Linked DNA regions of Homo sapiens: all the other regions are linked to region 2. The links come from fine-mapping of genetic effects on gene expression. A gene starts in region 2. Each other region holds a variant in brackets. All regions are shown on one strand. Distances are from middle to middle.

What was found. PIP is the estimated chance that this variant, and not a neighbour inherited with it, causes the effect.
Region 1: its variant is the best candidate, but not a certain one, in a credible set for the expression of EPN2 in spleen (GTEx, PIP 0.53).
Region 3: its variant is the best candidate, but not a certain one, in a credible set for the expression of EPN2 in tibial artery (GTEx, PIP 0.69).

What each region holds. Positions count from the first base shown.
Region 1 is chr17:19,315,897-19,325,274 of GRCh38, forward strand. The region is part of intron 7 of EPN2 (epsin 2); the gene reads left to right. Among named protein-coding and RNA genes, the nearest start is that of EPN2-AS1, 14 kb to the left of the region's middle. RefSeq lists an enhancer at 1,270-1,809. The variant G/C (reference allele first, on the strand shown) is at 5,188.
Region 2 is chr17:19,232,473-19,243,692 of GRCh38, forward strand. It overlaps EPN2 (epsin 2), which reads left to right and starts at 4,894. Exons shown (of 11, transcript NM_014964.5): 1 at 4,894-5,059. RefSeq lists a silencer at 4,802-5,271.
Region 3 is chr17:19,303,748-19,314,967 of GRCh38, forward strand. EPN2 (epsin 2) reads left to right here. Exons shown (of 11, transcript NM_014964.5): 5 at 6,138-6,250; 6 at 8,305-8,397; 7 at 9,358-9,532. It overlaps EPN2-AS1 (EPN2 antisense RNA 1), which reads right to left and starts at 2,514. Exons shown (of 3, transcript NR_048576.1): 1 at 2,192-2,514; 2 at 68-191. RefSeq lists enhancers at 449-648, 2,477-2,606, 5,175-6,091, 6,092-7,007. The variant C/G (reference allele first, on the strand shown) is at 6,275.

The DNA of each region.
Region 1 (9,378 bases), 83 kb after region 2:
CCGCATACCCAGGCCCTGGCAACCAGTATGTGCTTTCTATCTCCAGGGATTTGCCTCTCTGGACATTTCATAGAAACGGAGTCATGCACTGTGTGGACTTTTGTGCCTGGCTTATTTTGTTTAGCATCATGTTTTCAAGGTTCATCAATGTTATAGCGTGTGTCAGTCCTTCATGACTTTCTGTGGATGAATAATATTCCATTGCATGGATATACAACACTTCGTTTAACCATTCAGCAATTGATGGATATTTGGGCTGTTTTCACATTTTGGCTATTATGAATCCAGTTTTTTAAAGAGAAGATAGAAACCTGGATTTTTGAAATCTAGTGTTTAAATGTTGGCTGTGAATTTTAAAAATTAAGAATATGGTTTGAGCTAATTAAAAGCTATCTGAGGATGGGCACATGTGGCTTGTTGACTGCCAGTTGGCCATCTCTTGCCACTTGCCCAGCCTAGGACCTTCTTGGTTCTGATGCACTTGGCATTATTACCAGTGACTTGGGGAGGAGATAGGCCACCAAAGCCCATAGACATTGTTAATAGGTTTGGGACAGGCTCAGTGCTTATGGCACCATGTCCTGTAGTTGTCACACCATCCTGGACTGCTGCAAGGCCCTTCTGTGGCCCTGGCATGTCCTGGAAAAGTCACCACAAATTCCAATATGGAGAGATAGCCACTGTTAAAATGTTAGCTTGTCTGCTTCCTGTCTTTTTTCTGGGCATTATGTTTTTACTCAGTTGAAGCTATATTGTATATATAATTACGTGTGTATGTATGTGTATATTTCAATTTGTAGTGTCATGAGCATTTCTAGGCATCATTAGAAATTCTAAACAATACCACGCTGTACCATCATTTACTAAGCAGCCTAGTGATGTTCATAGGGGTGTTTTTGCAGTTCTGGCACTCTGCTTTCAATAGAAAAATACATTAAAATCACAGTGATTTCTTTTAATTCTGAGATTCTTTTCTCAGTGGTGGTGTTGACCAGCTCTGCAGGAGAATGGCCCTCTGCTAGCTCCTGCATTCACTGAAGCGTGTTAGCACACCCTCTGCTTCCACATTCCATCAGCGTAGCCTCAGAGCAAGAGTGTGGTATTGGATTTATTGTTTAGCATCTAGTTAAATCCAATAGTGCAAATTTTCAGGGTCACCCCTCCATCCTGAGACTCATTCATAAATTAGAAAGATTGGAGTCCCTTCCCCTAACAGTGTTAGCTGTGCCCTCTGGATGAAAGAAACACTGTTTTGAAAGCCACCATTTGTAGTGAGCCCCATCATTACCAGTTTTTTCCAAGCAGCACTAGGAGCAACTTGGCCAAGTGGCCTTGGGAGGAAATGCTCAGGGTTGAAAGGAGGGAGATTGGAGCCTGCCAGGTCAGTGGGGCGCTTCCTCCTCTGTTCCAGACACACAAAGCAGCCACCTGGTCTGAGGAGGGCTTATAGCCTGCTGATTCAGAAGACCTTGGCTGGCTGGAGCCCTCTCTCTGTACTCCCGCCCACTGCCTGGGCTGGGACAGAGGCTGTCTTCCGCCCTGGCAGCAGCAGGTGGTGCTACTGGCTTCTTGGTGACCTCTGCACGGCTCAGTTCTTCTGTGACGCACCACCCCCCCGCGTTGTGACTGCCTCCCTGTGCACATGAATATTCATCTGTGAGGCTCGGGATGAGCCAGGCTGGCGGGTGGGAGGCGACCGGGACACAGGCTCCCTGTGAATGGGCCCCACAGAGGAAGAGGCCGGAAACTGCTTGATCTTTCAAACCTTGGTTCCATCTTCGTTTCCTCTCATTCACTTGAGCTTTCAACAAGCATTTATTGATTGGGTATGTGGCATGGCCTGGACCCTGCCGAGGACGTGGAGAGGGAGAGCACAGAGAGAAGCCTTGCAGCGGATCTACTGTCCATTCATAGAGGAGGAGCATGCCCATTGCCTCCCCGAGCCAGCAGGCGTTCCCTGAGGGTACAGCTGGCCCTCAGGGAATGATTGTGACTTTGTGACTTTGTCTCCAAGTCACATTTCAAGAAAGCAAGGTGCCACAGTGTGTGACCTTCCATGACTCCCCCGCACACAGCAAAGAAGGAGGTCACACTGGCCACGGGACTTTGTATGTGTCTGGGGGGCTTTGCCCATTTGTATAGTCTGAATTCAGCCCAGCAGTTTGCAGTGTCCTATACACATGGGTCCCCAGTGTCACTTGCAGAATGCAAACTAGACAGAGCCCACCCACGCCAAACAGCTTGTCCATGATTACCTGGGTGATTTGGAGGTGGTCAGGATTTGATTCAAGCACAGACTTCACTCTATGTTCAAAGCTGTCTGGGCTGTGACCAACTTTGTCTGTGTGGGCTATAAGAGTAGGGGGTTCTTGGCTGGACATGGTGGCTGACGCCTGTAATCCCAGCATTTTGGGAGGCTGAGGTGGGCGGATCACGAGGTCAAGAGATCGAGACCATCCTTGGCCAACATGGTGAAACCCCATCTCTACTGAAAATACAAAAACTAGCCAGGCGTAGTGGTGGGCACTTGTAATCCCAGCTACTTGGGAGGCTGAGGCAGGGAGAATCGCTTGAACCCGGGAGGCGGAGGTTGCAGTGAGCCGAGATCATGCCACTGCACTCCAGCGTGGGCAACAGAGCGAGACTCCATCTCAAAAAAAAAAAAAAAAAAGAGTAGGGGGTTCTTTCTGAGCCAAAACTTGTAGTTTCAACATTGTGCATGATACAGTTGCAGAGTTTTAAAATTCTTAGCAGTGCTGTTGTTTGTTATTTTAATAGCAGATTCTAAAGGGGAAGCAGGGCCCATAAGAGCTAACTGGAGGTGTCAGAAGAGTCTCTGGAATAGTTTCAGGTGGCATTCCACTGGAGTGTGGGGTTCTCACGTGGAAGCCTGGCCCATGAGTCCTGGATGGTGGGTCAGCGTGCTGCTGGCTCATGGAGAGTGCTTCAGAACCCGTGCAGTGGAGATACTGCACATATTGCAGAGTTCATGGTAGAAAGAATTCTTCCGGAAATGTTGGCTGGGCATGGTGTCTCACGTCTGTAATCACAGCACTTTAGGAGGCCAAGTTTGGCAGATCACATGAGGCCAAGAGTTCGAGACCAGCCTGGCCAACATGGTGAAACCCCGTCTCTACTAAAAATACAAAAAATTAGCCAGGTGTGGTGGTGTGTGCCTGTAATCCCAGCTACTTGGGAACCTGAGGCATGAGAATCGCTTGAACCCGGGAGGCAGAGATTGCAGTGAGCCAAGACCATGCCACTGCACTCCAGCCTGGGCAACAGTGAGACCCTGTCTCAAAAAAAAAAAATTTCCAGAAATGTTAAAATGCCTTGTGTTAACTCTTAAAGATATAAACCTATTAGTTTAAACTGTGTTTAGAACCTCACTGTCTGAGAGTACGTCTAGATGGAAGGACAGATTCTACTTTTTAAATTTTTTTTTTGAGATGGAGTCTCGTTTTGTCACCCAGGCTGGAGTGCAGTGGCGCAATCTCGGCTCACTGCAACCTCTGCCTTCCAGGTTCAAGCAATTCTCCTGACTCAGCCTCAGCCTCCCAAGTAGCTGAGATTACAGGCGAGTGCCACTACGCCCAGCTAATTTTTTTGTATTTTTAGTAGAGACGGGGTTTCACCATATTGGCCAGGCTGTTCTTGAACTCTTGACCTCATGATCCACCTGCCTTGGCCTGCCAAAGTGCTAGGATTACAGGCGTGAGCCACCTCGCCTGGCCCCTTTTTTTTTTATTTTTTATTTTTATTTTTTTTTGAGAGAAGGTTTCCCTCTGTTGCCCAGGCTGGAATGCAGTGGTATGATCTGGGCTCACTGCAACCTCCGCCTCCCAGGTTCAAGCAGTTCTCCTGCCTCAGCCTCCCAAGTAGCTGGGACTGCAGGCATCTGCCACCACACCCAGCTAATTTTTGTATTTTTATTAGAGACAGGGTTTCACCATAGTGACCAGGCTGGTCTCCAACTCCTGACCTTGATCCACCCGCCTCGGCCTCCCCAAGTGTTGGGATTACAGGCGTGAGCAGCGTTGGGATTACACCATGCCCAGCGACAGATTATACTTTTGCAGGGAGCCTGGGTGTGCAGCGGCTGAGGCCAGAAAGGCGAAGCCTGAGGGACCTGGGGCTCGGAGCAGAGCTCAGAGACTCCTCTCTGGTGAGGGCCTCTGCAGGGGCTCAGGCATCCTGGATTCCCTTAAATGCCTAATCTTTATATTGTGTCTCATTGTCTGCCTGGCAAACTCTTATGTATTTTTGAAATCATGGCTCAGACATCCCTACTCAGGGGATGTGGTCACCCCGTCCTCAGGCCTGCCTCTTGCCCTCTTGCCATTGATGGCTGCCTGTGACCCGCATGCTGGCTGTAGTGGCTGTCTGTTTCTCTATCTCAGAGGGAGGGGCCATCCTGGGGCCAGGCCTGGGGACTGCTGACCAAATGTTGCTTGGATAGAACAAGGTGACCGTGGGAGACCAGAGCTTGTCTCCACCACGCATCTGCCCACTCAGGCTTGTAAGTCTGAGCTGGGTGCTCACATGGGGCCTCATTTTTGAGGAGGGCTTGGTGAGAGGTCTGGGTGCACCCAGAGCTCAGTGTTTCTTATGCATCCTGTCTGCCCATTTGAGTCATCTCAGTAGCTTCTAAAAATCCAAATGCTCAGGCCCACCCCAGAATCTGTGTGTATGCAGAGGACAGCATCAGTATTTTACTAAAATCCCTAAGAGCTTCCCAAGAAGAACCATGGTTGAGAACCACTAGTCTGGTGCCCCCTGGCCCAGGGTGCATGAATACCACTCAGTCTAAGACACTTGAAAGCTCCATGTCTTAGATAATCAGGATGGAGATTATGGGCCACTCTAATCTGGTTGTGTTTCTGAGCCCCTGAATTGGACATTTATCCAGAACCTGTTAGAAGTGGTCACTGAACTCCAGTGTGCAGAGATGCAGATAAACTGCAAAGTCCCTGCCAGCCTGAGGTCCTGTGGGTCCCTTGATCCTTGTGACCTCTCTTCAATCCCTAGTTAGTGATGGAGCACACCCTCTGTGTGTCAGGCTTGGATCTCGGGGATGGGCAGCAAAGCAGACCCAGCCGATGTTCTCATGGAGCACATGCTTTGGCAAGGGGGACAGATGCAGTCTCACATGCACACAAGCGGCATGAGTGCCCTGAGAAGGGTTTT[G/C]AGCTGGGTTTAGAGTGGGAACTGCATGGCGGGCTGGCATAGAGGCTGCAGAGTGGGGGCTGGGCCTTCCCAGCAAGTGCCCCACATACAGTATGTCAGGGGAGCCAGTTTGTTCGAGATGTGATGCTGCCCTCAGCTTGACCCAGTGGCTAGGAGGTGACCACCAACACTCAGACCCCCTTTGCTGTGTTGTTCACCTCAGAAGCTCAACCCTTTGCTCTGGCACGCACAGTGGCTGCCTCTGGTGCCCACCTCATAGTCCCAGTTAACACAGCCCAGGGAATAGAGAGAGTGGATTTCTCTGTAGCTCCAGTACCATTTCTGGGATTTAGGGATGGGGGACTGGAGTTGGGGACACTTTGCAGATTGACTTTAACCAGTGAGAACCCTTTTCTGTTGCCAGGGCAGGATCTGTCCCTTTTGAGACTGACTGGAAGTGGGTGAGGGGAGAATTCTTCCAAGGAGAACCAGGGCATCCTTGCAGGAGAAAGCAGGAGTGGGGGATAGAAGTAACCGGGGCATGTCCCCTGACAGAGGCAAGTGGGAAGGGATAGTAGCTGGGGAGTGAGATATTGTGCAGGGGAGATGATGCATGGTCAGGGCTGCAGGGAAAGCGAGGCTCCAGTCTGTTATCCAGGCACAGCTGGGCTGCTGAGCATGGGCAGTGAGGAAGGCATGTTGACTCCCCCAGGCTCCACAGGGGGCCAGAATCAGCCTGGCACTTGGCCCCAGGTCTCCCGTGTCCTCTGTGTTGTGTCACCGCAGTCCTGAAGTCACACCACAGCTCTTCGGCTTGCAGTCAGCTCTCTCCCTGATTTGTCATTTCCACCATGCCACTTACGTCCAGCTGGGACAGAGAGCTGAGGACCCACAAGGTGTCCTGTTGCAGGGGGTTAGAGTGAGGGCTTGTCTCTACAGTGTGATTCCAGCAGGGGGCAGATTTTTGTTTACTGATAGCCCCTTCCCCATGTCGAGCAGAGGTGGACCTGGCAAGGGCAGCTTCAGTCCTGGGGGAGGACGATCTGCATGAGACACTGGAAGACGAGGAGTGAAGTGTCAGAAGAAGCTTCTGGATGGAAACAGTTATTTCTGGAGCCTCTAGAAGGTTGTGGGTTCTGGGGCAGTAGCAGGAGAAGCCCTGAGTCCAAACAGGAGTGGACAGGCCATGAGGAAACGAAAGGCACAAGTATCCATGGGATGTTGGGAACAAAGCTTGCAGATTGACATCTGCTTTGGCCTGGCCAGGCCCCCATCGCCGGGGCAAGCTTGGGAAGGAGTGAAGGCAGCACTCTCCTCCTCTCCCTCCTAGTGCTGCTACAGCTAGCCAGTAGCTGATCCCGGCCAAAAGTGAAAAAGGCCACCAAGATAGTGGCTGGTGGGCCAGGTGCAGTGTCTCCTTGCGCCTGGCCAATAATATATTTTTACGTAAGAATTTGTGGGACAACTGAAACCTGTGAGACCAGCCTGGGCAACATAGGGAGACCCCATCTTTACAAAAAATAAAAAAATCAGCCAGCATGGGGGTGTGTGCCTGTGGTCCCAGCTACTTGGGAGGCAGAAGTGGGAGGATCCCTTGAGCCTAGGAGGTTGAAACTGCAGTGAGCTGTGATTGCACCACTGCGCTCCAGCCTAGGTGACAGAGCAAGAACCTGTCTCTAAAAAAAAAAAAAAAAAAAGGTAGTGGCTGGTGTGGCTTAATAGGCCCTTACTAAAGCTATTCAGCATTTCAGAGACGAGAAGGCATGAAGCTACATGTAGGATGCCTAGCAGTTGGTTCATCTTTTTGAAAGCCAAGGAGTCTCCTCTTCACCTGTCCATCCTTGAGCAGCAGAGCTGGGGCTTTTAAGAGAAGCATTTGTAGAATTCAGAGTAGGAATGAGGGAAGAGACTAGTTGTCTCGGAGGCTCAGGGGAGCATTCCCTGGTCTTCTGAGATTGACACATCACTGCCACCTTCTGCTGCCTTTCTCTAGGCCTCAGAGCTCAGCCAGGCTGTCACAAGCTTGCTGGGTGCCACCCTAATGTCTGGTGCCAGGGCTGAAGGTAGCCCTCACTCCAGGGAGTTTACAGTGCATGAGAGACTCATAGTTAAATAATAGTTATGGTGCTGTATGATAAGTGATCTAAAAGTCAAGGGGGGGATTCCAGAGGAGTCAGAGAAGGCAGGAAGAGAAAATAAGAGGGCCGGAGAGGCCCAGAAGATGCCAGGCATTTGGGAAGCAGTTGGGAATCAGTGTGGCTGGGGGTAAACACGGGAGCAGAGTGAGGACACCTAACACATATCTGTTTGGAGTTTCAGAAGAGCTAATATTTGAAAGCTGACAGGGTTTTCCAGAATTTTGGAAAGATGCTCCTTCTCAGATCCAGGAAGCCTGGTGAATCCTAAGCAAGATAAATCAAAGAAATCCCCACCTGGACATATCATCAGGAAACTGCAGAACACCAGAGGAAGAAAATACCTTAAATAAACCTACAGAGAACAGGCCATTCATTACAAAGAAATGGCAACTAAATGGATAGCTAACTTATTGACAGCAACAGTAGATGTCTGAGTGGCATAGAGTCTTCAGTGTGCTGCAAGAAAAACACAGTCAACTAGAAAGCCATTGCTAGCAAAATCATCTTTCTTCCAAGAATTGATAATTTTTTTAAAAAAGATATTTTAAATTTGGAAACAACAACAGCAACAAAAACTGCCAACCCCCAGAATTCTGTATTCAGTGAAAGTGTTCTTGAAGAGTAAAGTTGAAAGGATGACATCTGTTAATAAAACACTAAGAGAATTTGTTGCCAGCACATCTGTACCACAGAAATGTTAAGAGAAGTTCTTCAGGCTGATAGGAGGGAAAACCAGATGGAAACTCAGATCTTCAGGACAGAATGAAGAGCATCGGAAATGGGAAATAATTTGGGAGAACATTTCAGAAGTAATAAGGATATAAGAAAATTTGAGCGGCACAATCCATAAGCTTATGAATTTGTTGTTCCCAGCAATTGGAGAATACACATTCTTTGCAGTCACATGCAGAATACTTGGAAAAAATTGATGATGTCCTAGACAGAAAAGCTAGTCTCAACAAATTGCAAAAAATTGGTATCACATATAACACAATTTCTGATCACAGTACACTTATGTAAAAAATCAGTTAAAAGGATAAGTAGAAAACCTTCATACACCTAAAATTTTAAGAACACTTCTAAATTCTTGAGTCACAGAAAAAATTATAATGAAAATCAGATATATTTAGAACCAAATTAAATATATATTTAGACGGAGTTTTGTTCTTGTTGCCCAGGCTGGAGTGCGATGGCGTGATCTCAGCTCACTGTAACCTCTGCCTCCCGGGTTCAAGCAATTCTCCTGCCTCAGTCTCCCGAGTAGCTGGGACTACGGGCATGTGCTACCACGCCCAGCTAATTTTGTATTTTTAGTAGAGATGAGGTTTCTCAATGTTGATCAGGCTGGTCTCAAGCTCCCGACCTCAGGTGATCCACCCACCTCGGCCTCCCAGAGAGCTGGGATTACAGGCATGAGCCACTGCGCCTGGCCAATAGTATATTTTTACATAAGAATTTGTGGGACAACTGAAGCAATAGTAAAATAAATTTATAGCTCTAAATGTTCACATTAGTAAAAAAGATATAATGAAGTTAGAATAGCATTACACTGACGTAAAATAAAAGGAAATTATAAGGATAAAGATAGAAATTAATGAAAAGAACATAAACACATAATAGTATCCGTAAAGACAAGTCAGTAATTGAAAAGAGTAATAGACAAATTTCTGGCAAGAAATTTTTTTAAGAGGAAGGGCACAAACAGCATTAGGAATGAAACAGCATAACTGCCGGCACACTCAGGATTTCATGTCGGGTGAGAGGCTGACTCTTTGATCAGCTCTGTGCTTACAAATCCAAAAACTTAGATAAAATGGATAAAATTAAAAAGGAAACAGCAAAGCTAACTGAAGAATAATAAAAAACCTATAAATAGAAATCTGTAATCATGGAAGGTATGGAATCGGTATTTAAAAATCCTCCCCTTCTGCAAATCCACCCAGAGGGCTTTGCTAGTAAGTACTAACAATATTCAAGAAACAATCCCACTTTCATACAAACTCCTTTAGAGAACAGGAAAATAAAGAATATTCCTAGTCATTGTATGAGACTAGCAGAAGCCTAATGGCAACAC
Region 2 (11,220 bases):
TTCAGATTCTTCCCAAGAGTTTAGTTTTAGGCATGGTGGCTCATCCCTGTAATCTCAGCACTTTGAGTGGGTGGCTGAGGCAGGGGGATCAACTCCAGGAGTTTGAGACCAGCCTGGGCAACATTATGTGATCCTGTCTCTACAAAAAAATTGGAAAAAATAGCCAGGTGTGGTGTAGTCCCAGCTACTTGGGAGGCTGAGGTAGGAGGATTGTTTGAGCCTAGGAGATTGAGGATGCAGTGAACCATGATTGTGCCACTGCACTCTAGCCTGGGTGACAGAACAAGACCCGGTCTCTCTCTCACACACATACACACACACACACACACACAAAAGGCTGGGCATGGTGGCTCACTCCTGTAATCCCAGCACTTTGGGAGGCCAAGGTGGACAGATCACCTGAGTTCAGGTGTTCAGGACCAGCCTGGCCAACATGGTGAAACCCCGTCTCTAAAAAAATAGAAGGGCCGGGTGCAGTGGCTCATGCCTGTAATCCCATCACTTTGGGAGGCCAAGGCAGGCGGATCATCTGAGGTCAGGAGTTGGAGACCAGGCTGACCAACATGGTGAAACCACGTGTCTACTAAAAAAATACCAAAATTAGCTGGGCATGGTGGCACATGCCTGTAATCCCATCACTTTGGGAGGCCAAGGCAGGCGGATCATTTGAGGTCAGGAGTTCGAGACCAGGCTGACCAACATGGTGAAACGGCGTGTCTACTAAAAAAATACCAAAATTAGCTGGGCATGGTGGCACATGCCTGTAATCCCAGCTACTCAGGAGAATCGCTTGAACCAGGGAGGCGGAGGGTGCAATGAGCCGAGATTGCGCCACTGGACTCTAGCCTGGGCAACAGAGTGAGACTCCATCTTAAATAAATAAATAAATAAATAAATTTAGAAATACAAAAATTAGCCAGGTGTGGTGGCACATGTCTGTAATTCCAGCTACTTGGGAGGCTAAGGTAGGAAAATTGCTTGAACCTGGGAGGCGGAGGTTGCGGTGAACTCCGCGCCACTGCACTCCAGCCTGGGCAACAAGAACGAAACTTCGTCTCAAAAAACAAAGAAAAAAAGTTTAGCTTTGGAGTTTAGGCTTGGGTTTTCCAGGGTTACCACTTTTTAGCTGTGTTATCTTGGGCAAATAATGGAAGCTTTCTGAACCTCAGCTGTAAAATAAGGATAACGGTAGTCTCTACCTCTTAGGGTTTTTTATGAAGAGGAAATGAGGTACTGCATGCAAAACATTTGCACAATGCTCACTACTTTGTTGTCATTGTTACTAGTTCCTTTCTCCAGCACCTGCACTTCCAGGATGTTGGCACAGGTCCTTCCTTCCCCATGGGCTAGAAGGAAACTTCCTCCTGTGAGAGCTGTCATAGCTCTTTCTCTTGATTGTCTATGTGGCATTTGGTTTCTGCTCATGTTCATGCTGCCCAAACTCAAAACTTCTCTGTCCTAGACTTTCAACCCCTAGAAGGGAAAGGATGGCTCCATTCTTTTCAATGTCCTTAATAAGAGAACTGCCATCAACACCCATCCAGTGCATTTACAGTTTCCAAAGCATTTCCTCCTCTGCCTTTTCACCTGAGCCAGAATGCAATCCTAGGGAGTGGGAGGGGTTATTATTCCCACTTCACAGATGGGGAAACTGAGGTCCAGGGAGGGGCAGTGACGTCATGGTCAAGCAGCAAGTCGGTGGACAAGAAATTAGGTGTTTCTGGATTGCCAACACAAGTTTCTTTTTGTGGGACAAATAGTTTTGAATATAGAGTTCAAGCCTTTGGTGAAGATCCCGGGGAGCCTGTTCTGCACCTGTGCTAAGTGATTCTTTTCATTCAGCATGCAGTCTGTCCCTGTCTGCTGCCTGCCAGTCTTTCCCCCAAAGTCCCTTCCTGCTTGAAACCCTCCTTCCCTAACCCCAGAGACACCCCTGGCCTGCACTGCCAGCTCTTTCTTCTGAAATACACCTCTCCAACCGGCCCCCATCAGTCTGCTCCATTATCCACCTGGAACCAACCTCCAAACCTCTGCAAGGGCAGATGAGAGTGTCTCCTCCAGCCCTGTTTTCCATGGACTGCTTTGGGCACGGATGAAATTGTTCAGCTTATCCTGCAAGTTCCTCTGCAAGACTGCTTATGTGCTCTAGACTCATAGAACCTGGAATTGAATCCTAGCCCTGCCACATGCTGCCTCAGTTTCCGCATCTAAAATAGGAATAGGGCTGCTGACGTCAAGGGATCATCATGAGGATGAATTGAGAGAGGAATGCCAGGGGGCTGATACGCTTCAAGGAGGGGGTCCAGGAAAGAGAAATGACTTTGAGGAATGCAAGAATGTCCCCTCTGACCTTGCACGTGGCGGTCTTCCGGCCTCAGGACACCCTCCTCCACTTCCCAAGCCTGGGCTAATCTGGTATTCTCCAACTCACTTCCTGTCCTGTAGGTTAGCTCATCATCTCATTATCTGTATCCAGTTCTCTTTCCAGGCTTGCATATTATCTGTGCGGCTACACACACTTGCTAGGTGGGTAGTGAAGGGAGTATTAGGCTCTGCATATGGAAAAGTGGGCCTGGGTGGCCAAGCCCCAGCATATCTCCAAACCTCAATTTCTTGTCTGTAAAATGTGAACAGCAAGAATGTGCACCTTGCTGGGCACGGTGGCTCACACCTGTAATCCCAACACTTTGGGAGGCTGAGGCGGGAGGATCACGAGGTCAGGAGTTCGAGACCAGCCTGGCCAACATGGTGAAACCCTGTCTCTACTAAAAATACAAAAATTAGCCAGGTGTGGGGGTGCGGGCCTGTAATCCCAGCCACGTGGGAGGCTGAGGCAGGAGAATCACTTGAACCTGGGAGATGGAGGTTGCAGTGAGCTGAGATTGTGCCATTGCATTTCAGCCTGGGCAATAGAGTGAGACTCCGTCTCAAAACAAATAAATAAAAAAAGAATGTGCACTTGTGGAATTGTGGTAAGGTTTTAGACCAGCACTGGTCAGCATGGTAGCATCTAGCCACATATGGCTATTTACATTTAAATTAATAAAAGTTTAATGAAGTTTAAAAAATTCAGCCCCTCAGTCTCACTAGCCACATTTCAAGTGCTCGCTGGCCTCCTGTGACTCGTAGCTATCCTACGGACAGCACGCAGAAAGAACATTTCCATCGTGGAGGGAAATTCTGCTGAACAGTGCTGATTTAGAAGCATCACGCCCGTGCTGTGCATCAGCTCTGTGTTATAACTCATCTGACATTGTAAACTCAGGGCAGAAGCATGATTGCAGTGTAAAGTTCTGCTTTCCTTGGAGATGGGGTAAAGAGGTGAGGCTCACAAGGAATGTTGGACTGGTTGAGGGCATTCTCTGGGATGAGGGTGGACCAAGTTCAAAACGGGGAGCTCCGGCTTCTGCTGCAAGGCAGGCACATAGGGCATAATTCCCTCTGCTGGTGGAGAAGGGGCACCAAGCAGTGGGAAGGGTGGTTAACTGGAGAGTGTTTCTAGCATCTAGAGCTACCAGTGTTTGACTTTTCAAAGGAAAAGTGGCTATGTGGTTTTGCAAACGTGTTACAAGCTCTCTCCATTTTTATCGTATTTATTGTATCACTAGCTAGACTAATAAAGAAAAAAGAGAAGATACAAGTAAACATAATCAGAAAGGGCAAAGAGGACATTACCACCGACCCCATACAAACACAAAAAAGCCCTCAAAAACTATTATGAACACGTCTATGCACACACACTAAAAAACTTACAATAAATAGATGAATTCCTGGAAAGATACAACCTTTTTTTTTTTTGCCAGAGAATGGAATTCCAGATCCTGGGTTGTTAGAACCTTAAGGGATACTTTCATCCCCTGGTTCCTGTACAGGGAGGAGGAATCTGAGGCTCAGAGAAGTACAGTGACTTGTTTAAGGTCCCTCAGTGAGTTAGGGCAGAGGAAGACTTCTGGCCACAGCTTCCCTGAAGCCAAGGCTAGGCAGAGTGTTGATGTCACCCAGGCAACAGGGATGGTGCCCTCTGCCCACCTAGCAAGCCCTGACTCATGCTCCGCGCCCCTGCTGTGAGAAGTCTCTGCTGACTCCCACCCTGATTGGAGCAGGTTAGTCAGCTTTGAGGTGCAGCCTCCAGTTCTGGCCCCTCCAGTTCCGGGACTCTCATTCGAGGCATTTGGGGCTGTCTCATTTCTGTGCCCAGCACAGGGCTTGGCACAGAGGAGGTGCTTTGTGGGTGCCCGCCAGTCAAGGGTTTCCGTTTTCGTGCCATGTAGGTAACCCCTTGCCATTCGTGCCCTTAGGTAACCCCTTGAGCAGCCTAAAGAAGCCTAGAGACTTCTCCGTTTTTGAGTATATTTTATTGACGTGAAATACACGCACGGAAAAGCGCACAAATCCAAAGTGTACTTCCGCGCATCTTCATAAAGTGAACACACTTGTAGCCTAAGAACCCAACCCTACCAGCGCCCGGCAGGCCCTGGCCCCCTTCCAGTCTCTCCTACTGAACAAGGTTTTTGAGTGAAACCGGCAGGCCGGAGCGTGAGTTTCTGCTTGACGGGGCGGGGTCTGCGCGTGCTGCCCGGCCGTGAGTGTGGGGGGGCCGTGAGTGTGTACGGGGTGGAGTGGCCTGAAGGGGATTAGAGTGCGCGCGTTCGGGTATTAATTTGCCAGGGTTTGTGTGGCGCTCGGGATTGGGGGTTTTTTGGGGGCTCGGGCGTCGACTGTGGGGCGCTGCGGAAGGGTGGGTCGTCCGCGTGGGGTCCTGGAGCGCAGGAGGCGGAGGGGAAGCCGCGCAGGGGCCACTAGGGAGGGGCTCTGGCGGGGTCGCAGGGGCGTGGTCTGCGGGCGTGGGGGCGGGACCTCGGGGCCTCGGGGGCGGGGCCTGAGGGCGCGCGCACGCGTCCGGCGCGCCCCCTCCCGGCCGCCATGTTGGCTGGTGTGTGGGTGTCAAACTGAGCCAGACGCGGCGGTGGCGGCGGCTCCGCGGGCTACGGTCGCTCCCGCCTCTCGAGCGCTGCCGGTGGCCGCAGCGGCGCACCCACGCCGGCCCGGAGGAGCAGAGGTGAGCCACAGCCCGTGGGGCTCCAAGGCCAGAGCGAGTCCCCGGGGCGAGGACCCTCCCCCTCTCCAGGGCGCGGACGCCCCCAGAGCACAGGCTCCCCTACCTCACCAGCCCCGCCAGGGCATGCGCCCCTGCCGCCCCGCTGGTCCCTACGCCAGGCTCTGGGGGATCCCCTTCTTTCCAACCAGGCCCCGCCCCACGGACTGGAGCATGGCCCCCTTCCCATCTGGATCCAGCTTTCCGCTGCAAGGATCTCCCCCCTTACCCGTCCCTATCACCGAGCATCTCCTTTTATGTCCCCAGAGTCCAGGGCGCCCCTTACTCCTACCTCGGATCCTGGAGCCCCGTTCATCTTGGAACAACCCCGCCCCCTCCCCAGAGCACGTTCCTCCTCTCCCCGAGCCCGGCGCCCCTTCCTCCTGAGCCCAGCCTGGTCTCCCGCCAGCCCCCGTGCAGAGCCCGGTCCGGGCGCCCTCCGGGAATCGGGGGAGGGGTCCTTATCTCTGTCCGGGATCCCGCCCGTCTCACCTTTCCTGGGGGCTGTAGCAGGGCCCCCTTCCGTCCTTGGGGACCAGGCTCCCCACTCCCCAGCCCCCACTCCCACGGAACAGCGGGGACGGGGGCGGAAGAGCCAGGCTCCAGCTGCCTTTTGTTCCGCGTGGGATGGCAGAGACCCACCCGGCCCGGCGGTCCTGCTCGGCTGATCCGGGTGGGTGAATGGGTGCGTGGGGTCTGGCCTCTTCCAGGAGAGACTTCCTCTCTCTCCCTGTGGGGCGGCTCCCCTAGAGCCGAGAGCCGAGCGCGTTGGGAGGCTGGCCTTTGCTAGAGGAGTCGGTGCCAACAGGTTTTTGTTTGCGACCTGAAGTTTGCCCAGTGGCTTTCCCTGGGGCAGCTTGAGCTCCCTGTGAATCCCCCCGCCGGAGCTTGTGGAAGGCCGTTTCTCCGCCCAAGGAGTCCGTCTGGGCGACTCCTTCACAGTTGTGCTTCCCTGGGGACGTATCTAAAATCTGTGCTTTAAGAGCGGAGAGGGCTTAACCATCATTAGGGTTCAGATGAGGGAAACTGAGGCCCAGAACTGCAGTAATTTGCCCAAGGTCACGCAGTGATACTGTGTCAGTGCAGAACTAGAAGCTAGGTCTCCAGGCTCTGTTTACCACATTTAATAACTTTTTTATCTTTTAGGGAGATGTTCAGGACCCTACCTTCCCCTTTATTTTTAATATTTATGCAAGAAAGTGGGCAGGAAAATATGAGAAGTAATGAGTTATTCCTTTTCACCTCCAGAAAATATCCTGTGAAAGAAGGGATTGGAACAGGGTGTTAAAATGATGGGAAAAGGTGAATTTTAAGAATCCAAGCTTCCTCTCATTATGTAATATAACGAAGATTTGGCAGAAAACGTGCCTCTTGTAGCTCTAGATACAGAATTTTAGGTGCTGACAAAATCTTATGCTGAATCTGGCACAGCAGTGATTGAGTTAGCATTGATAATTAAGTTTTCATCTGTATTTAAATGAACATCAAAAGGGACTACAATTTGCTTCTGAATGGTACTTGTTCGGTGCTTGTTTTTGGGACAAGTGATTGTGTTGGGGAAGCGCACCTAAACTTTTAAATTTTTTATTTATTTATTTTTTTGAGACGGAGTCTCTGTCACCCAGGCTAGAGTGCAGTGGCACGATCTCGGCTCACCGAAACCTCCGCCTCCTGGGTTCAAGCGATTCTCCTGCCTCAGCCTCCGGAGTAGCTGGGATTACAGGCGCACGCCATCCACCACGCCCGGCTAATCTTTGTATTTTTAGTAGAGACGGGATTTCGCCACGTTGGCCAGGCTGGTCTCGAACTCCTGACCTCATGTGATCCGCCCACCTCGGCCTCCCAAAGTGCTGGGATTACAGGCGTGAGCCAACACTCCCGGCCTAAATCTTTTATTTATCTGTATTTTTACTTTTACATTTTAAAAGCTTATTTATTTCCCTGGTTTTAAAATTGGGCTAGTCATCTTTACCAGTCTCACTGGGCTATTCTTTTGTAAGCAGGGAATGAGATACTGGTTATTAAAGATTTTGGTAAAGTGTAAGTTACTGTAAGGCATGATTCAGGACTGCGTCCCACAAGTCCCCGGACCAGGAGCCAGTTCGGATTGTCTTGTGGGATGTACCAAGTTTCCCTGGTTTACAGAGGCTTTTTGCCTCTCTGAAGCCTGAGCTGGCCAGATGGAGAGCTCTGTGGAAAACTTCCAGCAGTGTGTGTTGGGCCAAGCACTCGAGGTGTGAAGAAATGTAAAACTTTCAAGTGATAATATCTAGCATCGTGTATGCAGCCTTGAAAAATGACCCAACCTTTGTAGAAATTCTCTGTTATCACTAACCCTCTTCCATAATGAGCGGAGGATTTCCCAAGAATTGGGATTCTGATAAGAGTCCTGCAAAAGTTGAAAAGTTTTCGGACTTTTTTTTTTTTTAACTTTAATTAGGAGGAGCGGCAACTTTCGGTTGTGAACTGAAGTACTATGAGATTTTTATGCATGGAATTGTCCTTGTCATACTTTTGGAAAGTACATTAAAATTTTCTAAGTTTTCTGGCGGTTCTCACTGTTCCCCATAACCTTTCTCTCTGGTGTATAGGGGTGTGAAGGACCACGATTGTTGTCATTTTATGACATGTATACCTGGTGACCCTGAGCCTTGGAGAAGTCAAAGGGCTTGGATTTGGGGAATTTTTTTTTTTTTGAGATGGCGTCTCACGCTGTCACCCAGGCTGGAGTGCAGTGGCGCAATCTTGGCTCACTGCAAACCTCTGCCTCCTGGGTTCAAGTGATTCTCCTGCCTAACCTCCCGAGTAGCTGGGACTACAGGCGTGTGCCACCATGCCCGGCTAATTTTTGTATTTTTAGTAGAGATAGGGTTTTGCCATGCTGGCCAGGCTGATCTCGAACTCCTGACTTCAAGTGATCCACCTATCTTGGCCTCCCAAAGTGCTGGGATTACAGGTGTGAGCCACCATGGCCGGCCTTGGATTCGGGGAAGTTGAGGCTGGAAAAGATGTGAGGAATTACGTAGTTTGTATCCCTTTTTTGTCTGCTGGACTTTTAACTCATGTATTCGGTGTAAACAGACCTCTTCTGTCAATACTTTGCCGTCTAGCTCGTCCGATGTTTGGCCCCTTTTTCTCTGCTATCCTACCTTCACCAACCCACACAGTCTGCTGGTGCACTTACGACATTGTCCGTGTATCTGGGGCTCTTGTGACACTGTGACGTCTTTGAGGCCAGTGGTCAGCTTGTCTTTACTTCTCCAGTACCAGGCTCGGTCTCTGATAGATGGTAGATGCTCAGTAAAGGTTTGTCACCAGTATTCCTCGAGGCAGGGGAGCACATTTTTATGGCTCCCTACTGTTCTGTCGCACTGTTGCTGAAATCACTACTGTTGGTTCAGCAATTGTGTGTCAGTTGCATAGGTTTATCCACCTCATCTGCAGGTGAGGAAACTGAGGCCTAGGGAGCTTAAGTTACATGCTCGAGGTCGCGCAGCCAGTAAGTGATTTGAACAGATCTGTTGGACTCCAAAATGTTATTATACCTGTTACCTACTTCGAGGACCAAGTCTCATGGGGATGAAGAGACACACTGCAAGTTAACAGTGGACTGAGGGAGGTGGGGTGATATGATTAAGGTGGTTGAGGATGGGAAGAGCACATTTGTTTTTTGTCAGATGCATTGTGAAATGAATGTTTATGTCCATCTGTTGAGTTTTTGAAAATTGACAAACTTGCCGGGCATGGTGGCTCACGCCTGTAATTCCAGCACTTTGGGAGGCCAAAGCGGCCGGATCACCCTGAGGTCAAGGGATCGAGACCATTCTGGCCAACATGGTGAAACCCCATCTCTACTAAAAATACAAAAATTAGCTGGGCGTGGTGGTGCACACCTGTAGTCCCAGCTACTCGGGAGGCTGAGGCAGGAGAATCACTTGAACCTGGGAGGCAGAGGTTGCAGTGAGCCGAGATCGCACCACTGTGCTCCAGCTTGGCGACAGAGCAAGACTCTGTCTCAAAAAAAAAAAAAAAAAAAAAATTGACAAACTTTCTGATAAGTTCGTCAATGGAATTTTATTGCTTAACTAGTTCATTCAAGTTAACTAAAAATAGAAACTTAGAAAAACAAATACAGTGAAATAAGTATATGTTGAAAGCCGTTTCAGCAGCCTTTTTTTAAACCACTGTAATTTCCATCAACATTTAACATAGGGATTATCACCCATTTGTGAGTAGAAAAACTGAGGCCCAGAGAGGTTAAGTAAGCTGTGAGGAACTGGCACAGCCAGGATTCAAAGTGAATCTGTGTAATTCCCAGGCCTGGGTCCCTTCTGCTCCACTGGCCCCTGTAGAAGGCCCCACAAAATAATAGGTATTCATTTAAATAATAGAATAAATTTGTTGTCTGAAAGTCACCACCAAGTTTATTTAGAAGGTTGGGAATTGTGAATAACGAGATTTCTGGCTCTTTCCTAACCTTAGAACCTTTGAAAACACTGTGGTTTGAATGTCAATAATTAATGGATCATTTTAGCTGAGAGACACTAGATTTGGTGTTTGATCTGAAAAAAAAAAAAAAAAAGCCTAGGCCAGCCACGGTGGCTCATGCCTGTAATCCCAGCATTTTGGGAGGCTGAGGTGGGCGGATCACTTGAGGCCTAGAGTTTTTGAGACGAGTCTGGCCAGTATGGCAAAACCCTGTCTTGACCAAAAAAATACAAAAATTAGCCGGGCATAGTGGCATACACCTGTAGTCCCAGCTACTCAGGAGGCTGAGGCAGGAAAATCACTTGAACCTGGGAAGGGGAGGTTGCAGTGAGTCTCCAGCCTGGGTGACAGAGCAAGACTCTTGTCTCAAAAAACAAAAACAAAAAACCTGTCTTCTTTTGAACCAGATCCGCAACATTGTTAAAATGCTCCCTATCCATGCATTGGATTCTTTCTGTGACTCATTCCCCTAGTACCTAGGTGCTGGAGCCTGCTTCGTTCCTGGGCATAGAAAGTCCTTTTCCTGATTCTGTTTCCTGTTGGTCCTGGTCTAGGCAGAGTGTGCTTCACTTTCAAGCCCTCTAGAGACAGGACAGGTAACTTAATTCTCTTTCTGTTCAAAGCAATACAAGGAATTGGACATGCAAAGGGCTGTAAATAAAGGGACTCCCCATCTTCTCTTCATGGTAACCCTGCTGATATATAGAACAGGGAAAAGTAGGCTCATCCTGGGGGACGGCTGATTGTTTAGGGCTAATGCATGATGTGGATTTAAAAGCATTTATAATTAATCACTTCTGAGTGCAGGCTTCATTTTTCCTCTTGGTCCCACCCCTCTTAGGTAGTTGCACGTTGCAGCAGCTCGATAGCTGAGAACACCAAGTGGTACAGTTAATTTGGCTTCAAAGGCCATGTGGCAGATAGCTTTGGAATGAGGTGTGGGTACTAATGGGCCTCCTGGCTGGGTGGCTTTGGGCACTTTAATCACTGAGCTTTGGTGTCCTCATCTCTAAAGGGGGGCTCGTAATCACTACTTCATGAAATAGACTAGCCTTGTTTCTCAAACTCCTGTGTGCAGCAGAAGCACCCAGAGGGCTTGCTGAACACGTGGCTGGGGCTGCACCCCATTGTTTCTCATTAGGGAGGGGAGGCCTGAGAATGTGTCTTTTTTTTTTTTTTTTTGAGACAGAGTCTTGTTCTGTTGCCCAGGCTGGAGTGCGGTGGCGCGATCTTGGTTCGCTGCACTCCACCTCCCAGGTTAAAGCGATTTTTCTGCCTCAGCTTCCTGAGTAGCTGGGATTACAGGTGTGTGCTACCATGCCTGGCTAATTTTTTTTTTTTTTTTTTTTTTTTTTTTGAGACGGAGTCTCGCTGTCTCCCAGCCTGGAGTGCAGCGGCGCGATCTCAGCTCACTGCAAGCTCCGCCTCCCGGGTTCACGCCATTCTCCTGCCTCAGCCTCCCGAGTAGCTGGGACTACAGGCACCCGCCACCACACCCGGCTAATTTTTTTGTATTTTTAATAGAGATGGGGTTTCACCGTGTTAGCCAGGATGGTCTCGATCTCCTGACCTTGTGATCCGCCTGCCTCGGCCTCCCAAACTGCTGGGATTACAGGCATGAGCCACTGCGCCCGGCC
Region 3 (11,220 bases), 71 kb after region 2:
CATTTTTCATTATACACCTTTTTGTCTTTTGCATCACATATATATATATGTTCCTGTTAAATATTACCTGGTGTAGTCCGGGTGGGGTGGCTCACGCCTGTAATCCCAGCAGTTTGGGAGGCCGAGGCAGGCAGATCACGAGGTTAGGAGTTCAAGACCAGCCTGGCCAACATAGTGAAATCCCGTCTCTCCTAAAAATACAAAAATTAGCTGGATGTGGTGGTGCGTGCCTGTAGTCCCAGCTACTCAGGAGGCTGAGGCAGGAGAATCGCTTGAACTCGGGAGGTGGAGGTTGAAGTGATCTGAGACCACTCCATTGCACTCCAGTCTAGGTGACAGAGTGAGACTCCGTCTCAAAAAATAAATAAATAAATAACCTGGTGTAATCTGAACTTAACTTTTTTATAATTTGCCTCGTTAGACTAAAAGCAGCCTTCCCAGCATCTCCCTGCGAGGAGGTAAAGTAAGGGCCTTGGAGGCTCTCCTGTGTTGAGAAGTGGCAGGAACGTCCTCAGTAGCCAAGGTCATTGCTGATTCAGGAAGTGGCCCCTGGAACCACAGGATGATGTCACCACATTGAGGAAGCGTTTCACTGCTGTTCAGTAACAAGGAAGGAACTTAGCTGAACTAGAGAACTGGCCACTGGACAGTGGACGCTGACCCTGTGCTCAGTGCTGGCTCCCTAGCCCCTCCCTCGAAGTAGGTCAGCCCAGCAGAAAGCAACCCCAGGCCTGTTCCTCGGAGGCCTGGGAAGGGCCACGCTTTCTGTGTGTGACGTGGAGGGTGGGGTGTCTGAAGGAGCTTAGCCCTCAGGTGGTCTGGTCCCCATGGATGGAGGAAAGAGCACCAGCTCAGGACAGGGCTGGAATCCACAGGGAAGAGCCAACTGCATCCCAGCACTCCTGACCCCTTGGTAGGTCAGTTGTTTACCTCCTCCCACAGGCCCCACTGTCTTCATTTCACTGATGTGGGAGCAGAAGCTCAAAGAGGTCAGGCTATCACATGGACTCCCACTGCTTGTCAGCGGTGGGGACAAGATTTGTCCGTCCAGTGCTCTTTCCACTATCTGGTCTTCCCTTGGCTGACATGCACAGGGTGTGAGAGGTGGTAGCAGTGCTTGGGCCCACATGGGGTCTTCTCACGCCCCCAAGGCCTGGCAACCTTTCATTTTTTCTGAGTTGTCAGACATGCCTGTGTACCCAGCATTGCCACACCAGGCCCAGGGACATAGGAAAACCAGGACCTCACCCTGCCTTCTCCACAGGGTCTGTGACGCTCACGTACCAGTGCAGTCATGCTGCCCACTGCACAGAGCCATTTGATGGTAGAATCCTGTCCCATGTGCTGTAAAATGTAAAAATATACTTTGGTTTTTTTTTTTTTTTTTTTTTTTTGAGACAGTCTTGCTCTGTTGCCCAGGCTGGAGTGCAGTGGTATGATCTTGGCTCGCTGCAACCTCCACCTGCTTAGTTCAAGTGATTTTCATGCCTCAGCCTCCTGGGTAGCTGGGACTACAGGCACGTGCCACCACACCCAGCTAAATTTTGTATGTTTAGTAGAGACAGGGTTTTGCCCTCGTTGGCCAGGCTGATCTCGAACTCCTGGCCTCAAGTGATCCACCCCCTTCGGTCTCCCAAAGTGCTGTGACATCATTACAAGCATGAGCCACCATGCCTAGCCTACATTTGTGTTTTTTGTACTTGCCACTTTCTTTCTGTTTGACCTATCCATGCAGATTAGAGGAGGCTTTTTAATCAGCACTATGTGACTGGCAGATGCTGCTTCCATACTTTCTAGGAAAATTGCAAAATGTAGCTGATAAGAATCAATTTCCTGTTTTTCTACCAACTCGATTGCCTTCTTTCACAGTTACCTGAAAGTGGCCCACTGAAGCATCTTTATTAAAAAATCTTTCACCCTTTGTTTTAGGAGCGCATTTGGGAAAGGGTGTCTCTCCCCCAGCACAGAGTACAGGCACCCAGGCTCTGCCGGGCAGTCCCTGGAGCAGACAGGGTGGACTCGAGTGGGAGAGACCCTTGTCTGCCTGAGTTGGGAGAGTTTTCTTGGTCTTCTTTTTAGATTGTATTTTGAGGGAAATGTTGGGCTTTTCTAGCCTTCCTACTCAGCCTCTCCCCCTTAGGCTTTTTCTCAGCTGGTGTGACAGACTGGAAAGGATAGAAATAAGGCCTACCTGTGGTTACAGTTCTTGACCACAGCAAGTGAAGACTTGGAGCTCTTCCAGTGGGGTTCATAATGCAAAAGGCCGCCTTCCTGGGAGAAGGTCCGTGCATTTGATGCGACTTTAGTGATGAGCTTAAACTAACAATTCCCGTTCTTCCTTCCAGTGAGTGTCTGGGAAAGCAACCTGCAACAATGAGAGAGTGGCACATCCCCCAGCACTTGCTTTTTCCCTTGGTCCCTGTGAGCTCTGAACCTTCAGATCCTCAGAGCAGAGCCAAGGCCAGGCTCAGGTGGTCAGAAGGGCCCATTCAGGCCTGTCTCACAACGACGTCTGTGTTCACTGTCATGTGCATGGGCACAAGAGGCCCTTTGTGGAGCTGAGTTGCTGTCACCAAGGCAAGAATATCTCTGCTGGAATCCTCCCTCGAAGCTCAGTCCCGTTGTGTGTAGCTCAGCTGATGTTCAATGGTTGGTGGCCAAGAATTCTGCCATCTGCAGAACTGAAAGCTGTACATCCGTTTATGAAAACCACAACATTCAGGGGAATACCCATTGTCTTTAATTTCTACATTGATGTGACGAGCTATGATGTGGTGAGCCAGTATGTGCCAGCTGTGCGTTATTCTAACAGTGTCAGTTATGGTAGACGTAAACATGTACATTTGCATTTGAAGCTATTCTGGCCTTGCAGATGTGCTAGAAAGCTCAGAGGACAAAGGAGGCCTCACTTCTCCAGCAGGTCCAGTTCAGAGCCCCGTGCCCACTCTCCCCCTCCAACCTGGCTGTATCAGGCACTGTAGCTGTGCAACTCAGTACCAGCTTCCCTGCCAGGATGGGGCTTGTTTTCCAGAGCACTTTTTTTGGGGTGGGGTGGGATATGAGCCTTCTACTTGATTCATTTGTGGTTTCCATTTGGTAGTAAATGAAGGATGTCGTAAGTGCAATATTTGCTTTATAGCAAGGGTTTTGTGAACCAAGCCTCAGAGATTCCTTATCAGGAAAGAGGCTGGGAACAGGTGGCTGGAGTGGTTAATGATTTGGGTGTGAGTGCCCTGTTCACTTGAGAAGAGTCCCCAGGAACTGTCTGGCTTCCTTTATTCTCTTCCATGTGGATGGTGACATCTTTTTGAACATAGGAAAGCCCAAACTTGAGAGTTCTGATTGGCATAGGTGAAGTTTAGGAACAAAACGAACAAAAAAATATACTTTTTGTTTTGGTGTATTATTAAGAAATCAAGTTGTTAAGGTGGATTGAGGACTTTTCTTTACCCTCTAGCTTTATTTCTGAAGAGATACTTTGGGAAATATAATTGAGTGATAACACTAGGATGGGATTTGACTTGATTTTATTTAGAAAAATACATTTATGTTTTTATAGCTGCAACTTTCTTTTTTTTTTGGAGATGGAGTCTCGCTCTGTCACCCAGGCTGGAGTGCAGTGGCGCGATCTCAGCTCACTGCAAGCTCTGCCTCTTGGGTTCATGCCATTTTCCTACCTCAGCCTCCTGAGTAGCTGGGATTATGGGTGCCCACCACCATGCCCGGCTAATTTATTTTGTATTTTTAGTAGAGATGAGGTTTCATCATGTTAGCTAGGATGGTCTCAATCTCCTGACCTCGTAGCTAGAATGGTCTCGATCTCCTGACCTCGTGATCTGCCTGCCTCGGCATCCCGAAGTGCTGGGATTACAGGCGTGAGCCACTGTGCCCGGCCCGTTCCAAAGTAAATTTATTGCTATATGTTTTGTGTGTTTTTAAGAATTTCATGACAGGGTGATGCCTCTGCTTGGCAACCTCACATGGTAGAGAAGTTCCCAGTCTCCTGCCCGGCCCCACCTCAGCCCTCTGCCCAGAAGCAGCCTCTTTCTACCTCCCCTGGTTCTTCTGTGGATCCCGTCTGTGGCCTGAATTGCATTTAGGCCTCTTCCCCTGTTTTATTCACCATAGCCATGGCCCAGCTATCTGAAAGCCTCCTTTGTCAGGAATTATTCCTAACCTTTTAGTTTCTCTCAAAGAGGAAAACCCTAAGAAGCAAATTTAGATTGGAAAGTAAGGCAGAAGCAACACCTAGGTGAATGAATCCTGCTAGTTAGGTTTCCTAAAATAGATGTAATGAAAGAAGGAAGTAAACTAATACACAATTAGAACATTTATTTATTTTTTGAGATGCAGTCTTGCTCTTTTGCCCAGGCTGGAGTGCAGTAGCTTGATCTTGGCTCACTGCAACCTCTGCCTTCTGTGTTCAAGCAATTCTCCTGCCTCAGCCTCCCAAGTAGTTGGGATTACTGGCGCCCGCCACCACACCCAGCTAATTTTTGTGTTTTTAGTAGAGACCGGGTTTTACCATTTTGGCCAGGCTTGTCTAGAACTCCTGGCCTCAGGTGATCCGCCCGTCTCAGCCTCCCAAAGTGCTAGGATTACAGGCATAAGCCGCCATGCCCGGCACAATTAGAACATTTTAAAATGACCCGTTAACCATGAAATTGAATTCTGTAGTTGTCCATCTGTCGACCTGTGCATGCACCTGTCTGTGCATGCATGTAAGCCTCCACCCAACAGGTGTTTGTCAGCCAGGGGTGAGTGCTACAAGGGAGAGGTGCAGAGGTGCAGAGTCTGACACAGCATCAGGATGGAGGGGAAGGACCAGGTCCGGGAAGCCGAGCTCTGACTACAAAAGAGGAGGTGGGTGCGCTGAGGGAACAGCCTGCACGGAGACCCGGGAGGAGGACAGGGCAAGGAACCATCTAAAGCAGTAGCTCCAAATCTCTCAGAGGGCAGGTCTTGTTCTGAGAGTTTTAGAGAAGCTATGGACCCTTCCTGAAACGGGGGCAGAGGTGGGCACATACTTCTAAAACTACAATAATTTCTAAAAGCATTTAGATTCCCTGATCGTGAAACATCCTGATGGCTGTGTAAGCCCCAGCACCCAGCACCATGGTTTATGTTGTGAATGTTAAGACTCCCGTGGGGTTTGTTACATCAGCTAGGAGTTCACATCTCATTCATTCAATAAAAACTGTCTTTCCAGGAGCTGCTTAGAAGTATTTAAACTAGCTAAGTGCACAGCAAAAGTGTCTGCATTTTTATCTGCATTTCTTTCTAATCAGTGTACAAAGCTGCTTACAGAACGAAAATGTTTGGGGTCACTGCAGAAATGGGCGGGCTTCATTTTCCATGATCTCGTAGTAACACTACGAGAGACAAAGGTCAACTCTTTTTTTTTTTTTTTTTTTGAGACGGAGTCTCGCTCTGTCACTAGGCTGGAGTGCAGTGGCGAGATCTTGGCTCACTGCAACCTCCATATCCCGGGTCTCTAAGTGATTCTCCTGCTAGCTGGGATTATAGGCACACGCCACCATGCCCAGCTAATTTTTGTATTTTTAGTAGAGATGGCGTTTCACCATGTTGGCCAGGATGGTCTCGATCTCTTGACCTTGTGATCCGCCCGCCTCGGCCTCCCAAAGTGTGAGGATTATAGGCGTGAGCCACCGCGCCTGGCCTCAAAAGTCAGCTCTTGAATGTTGGTGTGCCTGGAGTGGAGTCTTTGGTCTCCAGATGCCCTCCACCTGTTTGAAGGATGCTCTTTGGTTCATCTGTTCAAGAGCTATACTTTGGGTCTTTGAGTTAGTTCCTTTTTTGGAGCACTGCAGATCTGCCGTGAAGACTGAGGTTCTGATCCTTGTGAGGCCTGATGGCTGGGGCTTGCATACCCAAAGGCATCTTCTCTTGGTTGGTACCAGGGGACTTCTGTAGTTGGGAAAGCTACGTTTGACTGTCACTTGATTTTAACATTCAAATATTTGTAAGCCTTTCCTTTCCTCTGCCTGCATTGTTGGGCTACTGCTGGACCTTGCGGGTTTGAGATGGGAATGGAATGTGGTCTGCCCAGGAAACTGCTGTGCAGGAGCTGTATCAGCCTTGTCTTTTGCATATGATGACTTGGTCTTCCCCAACAGCCACCTCCCCGCGAGTGTCCTCCGAGCTGGAGCAAGCCCGGCCCCAGACTAGTGGAGAAGAGGAGCTTCAGCTGCAGCTGGCACTTGCCATGAGCAGAGAAGTGGCTGAGCAGGTCAGTGCCCCAGGCAGGTCTGCA[C/G]TGCATTGACTGCCCATGCTCAGGGTGGAGTGTGGCTCACTGGGAAGAAGATGGCAGACACAGCCCTGTCTTCAAAACATTTCAGATATGCTTGCTGAGATGGCATTTCATGCTGCCGTAAGTGTGTATTCTTGTCACCCAGTGTCCCTCCCAGTCAGGGAGGGATCCCATGCAAAGTTACATTTAGGAAAGATTTTCTAGGAAGTCATTGCCAAGGAAAGAAACCAGTTAAAAATGCTTCCCAGAAACACTTGTGCAGACACGTGTCTGGGCTTTCCCTGAGTGAGCTGAGCCTGCACAGGCTCTTTGAAGGGTGGCATGCAGGGTGGGCGCAGGGATGCAGGCCTGAGGGGCAGGAGCCAGCCCAGCCCCCGCCAAGCACTTTGACCTGTAGCAAGAGATTTGCAAAAAACAAAGGCTGGGAAAAAATGCTCCCGAAATGAGAGTGCTTGTGTTTTGATGATGGAAGTATGTATAGTTTTAGTTTTTTTCAGTTCCCATTTTTCTTTTCTTTTCTCTTTTCTTTTCTTTCTCTCTTTCTCCTTCTTTCTTTTTTTTTTTTTTTTTTTTTTTTGAATCAGAGTCTCACTCTGTCACCCAGGCTGGAGTGCAGTGGTGCAATCTTGGCTCCCTGAGACCTCCGCGTCCTGGGTTCAAGTGATTCTCGTGCCTCAGCGTCCCGAGTAGCTGGGATTTCAGGCGCGTGCCACCATGCCCGGCTAATTTTTGTATTTTTAGTAGAGACAGGGTTTCACCATGTTGGTCGGGCTGGTCTCAAACTTCTGACCTCAAGTGATCTGCCCACCTCGGCCTCCCAAAGTGCTGAGAGTACAGTCTTGGGCCACCGTGCCTGGCCCCCATTTTTCTTTAGTAAGCATGCATTACTTTACAACAGCGAGAAGGGAAAGGAGCAATTAGAGTGGCCTTACAAATTGTCAAGCCTTTGGTTGCAGTTATCAGGGCTGTCTCCAATGACCTTTGGTTAAAAAAGGTAGATGGGACCAGGGGCAGCACAGGGATTCCTCTCCTCTATTAGAAGTTGGTGTTCAGAGAGGAATACTGGGGATAGTTAGATTTGAGTACTGACAAGTTCATCCCGGCATTGTTTGTGTGTCTATAACTGGCAACATTCTAAAGCTCAGTGACAGTGGGCAATCTCAGTTGTGGCCTCTCTGTCCCTGCAGTGGGAAACAGGCCACCAGTAACTGCCCAGGTGGATGCATGTGGCTTCATGGCCAGCAGCCCAGGAAGAAGGTGCGTGGTAGCATCCACTGAGAAACATAGGGACAGACGGACGGTTTGAGCCCATTTTAGTTAATATTTATAATAAAATATAAGGGAGCAAGTTCAAACTCCCGTGCTGATCAGTAGTGGCATTGTCCCTGTGAATAGCTACTGTGTAGCAGCCTGGGTAATACCATGAGACCCTATCTCTTAAAAACAAGAAAAGAAAAAATACAAGGAATATATTATTTATATTTAATTATTATATTATATAAAAGCTTAGGACAACCCTGTCTTTTGCATATGGTGACTTTGCCTTAAATAAAGATAGTGAATCATTTCTGTTAGGAATCATAGAAATATGCAGCCATTTTCCGGAAGCATACACAGTGGAGGTGGAATGATACGTGATTTTTATCTTCTTTCTAATTCCTTTTTGGGTTGTCAGATTTGTGTTTTATAAGGACACACATTGCTTCTATAAGTAGAATTTATAAAGCCAGTTTCATTTTGAGAAAAAAATATTTTAGATTAAGCATTCCCTTTCCCCAGTTTGGTGGTACCTGAGCCATAGTCTCCCTGGTGTGACCCCACAGGGGTCCAAGTCACAGGAGTCGCCATGAGGGAGGGGCCTTCTGGGTACACACACATTTGGGATTTGAAAGTAATTGTGTTTTACAAGTAGTTTTGAAATCTTCCTTTGAAATACTGCATCATACAATGTGCATTTCCTGTTTCTGGCCAGTGTGGCTTTGTTCTGTACAGTGATGTTATTACAATTACCAGTTTGCATTGTCCCTCTACAGGAAGAACGCCTCAGGCGGGGTGATGACCTCAGATTACAGATGGCCCTGGAAGAAAGCCGAAGGGACACAGTTAAAATTCCAAAAAAGAAAGAGGTAAGAGCTTGCTGGGAGGGTAGATGTTTCACCCTGTCCTGTAGTTGTTGCCTCAATATCCCCCCACCAACTTGCCTGGATGGCGTGATGCACAGTGAGTTCTCCAACCTCAGCAAATAACCTTCATGCCTGTAGTGAGCGAGAGCCAGGTGAGCAAGCGACTGAAAACACACCTGAACTAACCAGGAGACACTTAATGTCCCAGTGCCTCAGTCTGCTCGTTTGTAAAATGGAGGTGATGATAGTGCCTGCCTCCTGCCGCTGTGGCTACGGCAGCTGTCAAGTGAGCTACATGCCAGGGGCTGCGGAACGCTTTCCTGCAGCAGGGTGTGCCCCCAGAAGTGCTGGTTGCCTCTTCAGCCCTGTGCCAGGCTTCCTGCTGTGATGTAGAGATGACCAGGACATGGCTGGGCTCTTGACAAGCTCATCATCATCCAGTCAAGACCCAGACCCCTTCTACACCACAGGCCCCGGGGCTCCATTGGCCTCCTCTGTTACAGTGCTACTGAGGCCGGTGGAGCCCCTGGCTCCTGACTGGTTGATGTTGATGATCCCTGATGACACATGGGGTGGTCTTGAGAGTGGGGAGCATGCAGGTGCCCGAGGAGGAGGGCCCTCAGGCTGGCCCTGGATGGTGGCTGGCAGGTGGGAGGGATGGCGTTCTGGAGGAGGTCCACAGCCTGGGCAGAAGCCAGTGTTAGCCTGGAAAAGTCTGTTGAGCCCTGAGGTCTCTGAAGTCTGGTGAGGGGGTTTAGCAAACAGTAAATAGCTTGTTGTGACTGGAGAGCTGGCTGGACGGGGAGGGAGATGGGACGGCTCAGTTTCCAAGTTCTTCTCAGCCCCTCCTAGAGGGCTTCACTGGAGGAAGAGGCACAGGTGGGTGATATTTATGGCTAGTTCATGAGTATTTGCTGTAACTGTAGCATAGTAAAACCTGTCCCCTTCTCTTTGTCTTAAAAGCATGGCTCTCTCCCACAGCAGACTACGCTGTTGGATTTAATGGATGCTCTCCCCAGCTCGGGCCCCGCGGCCCAGAAAGCAGAGCCCTGGGGCCCGTCAGCCTCCACTAACCAGACCAACCCCTGGGGCGGGCCAGCGGCTCCTGCGAGTACTTCAGACCCCTGGCCATCGTTTGGTAAAGACCCCATTACTGGTCTCCCGTGCTTGCCTGCTGGATGGGTGAGGGGCAGGGCAGTGCTTCTTGCTGTCTCTCACCCACTTGGGTCTGGTCGATTGTGGTGGGTGTCCAGGCTCCTCCAGCCCTCAGCAGTGATATCCAACTGGCCCTTGCCCTCCTCCTTGAGGATGGTGGCATGGTGTTCCCTCTTTGTTTTGAGTGGTTTTCTGCTTTGGGAGAAGGAAAGTCAACCTCCCCTCAACCTCCCATTTGCATCAGAAATGGCTTGTGCCTTCTCTGGGACATGTTTCAACTCTTGCAGCCTCAGCGTTACACCCAGCGTCCCAGCTGAAGGAACCAAAATACACAGCATGGAACATCCAAATCAAGCTGCTGTAATTAGATGGAAATTATGATGTGCTTACCACCACTGCTGATGAAAAGGGGATACATTTGCTATAATTCTGCTTGTTACTTAAAGCAATAGAAAATCCGTTTAATAGGCTAAATGAATATTTTAAAGTTTTGCTTAATGTGAGATGTAAGAGGAATTGTGGTGGGAAGTTCAAAATGTGAGCATGACACAACTGGTTTGATTTGGGTGATGATCTTGGGCCCACGAGTTTCTTAATCACTGGGCAGGAGCATGGCCCAGCAGGCTTTATGAAGGCTTCCTGGCCTGGTGCCCTGGGAGGCCCCTCCTGGTGTGCTAAACCCTACTGGGCGTGGCTGACCTGTGGGCTGTTTGGGAACTTTGTATATCTTGTGGCATCTTGCCTGTATCTCCTGGAGTCTCTGTTTCTCTCAGAACCGTCTCTTGTGTTTAACTCGGTTCCCTAGATGTTTGCTAAAATGTACCAAGTGACAGGCTGTGTTCTGCTGTGCATGACCCCTGAGACAACAGGTGATTATTGTCCCTGTTGTCTGTTGTCAAGGCCCTGCTCAGGAGCGGGCAGGGCAGGAACACAGCGTAATAGCAGTACTGTGTAGTCCAGGACTCGATGGAGGTTATTTGAGAGCATCCTGGGATGAGATGAGACTCAGTACAGGAGTCCAGGAGTGTGAGGTAAGCATTTTGGAGGAAGGCCACTTCCGTTGAGTCCCCAGGGAAAAGAAGGTGTCCAGGCACCAAGAGGCAGGGAGTTCCCTGCAGAAGACTCAGCGTGTGAGAAGCAGAGGGGTACGGAGTGGTGGAGTGGGTGCAGATGCAACCAGCTGGTGTGAACTGGGAAGCAGGGGAGAAGGGCCCAGATCACTCAGGGCCTGCACTCAGCCTTACCAAGTGCTTGGACTTGGTCCAGAAGACACTGTCAGCCCCCGATGCCCTTTAGCATCTGGTGAGTTCCAATAGCTTGATGGTGGCCTCTGTAACCCAGGCAGGGCCTTATACCCCCTTTGGCAGGAGCCCTCTGGGCCTTGGGAAAAGCCCCAGGCAAAATTGCCCACAGCTTTCATTGACTGAAGGCCAGTTCCAGGGCTGCTCAAGAGGTTGGTTCACAAGGTTTGTCACTTGTGTGTGGTACCCCCAGGGAGCCTGTGGTATGGTTTTACTCACCACACATGGGGACTGTGGTGCCCCAGGGCTGGCAGACCCTTTTAGACAGTGGCTTTGGCTTTATTTTTAAATCTGAAGAATGATTAGTCTGTAAAGTGATGGCCACCATAAGTTATGGTTAGGATGTTTTCAGGAAAGACTGTTCATTAAA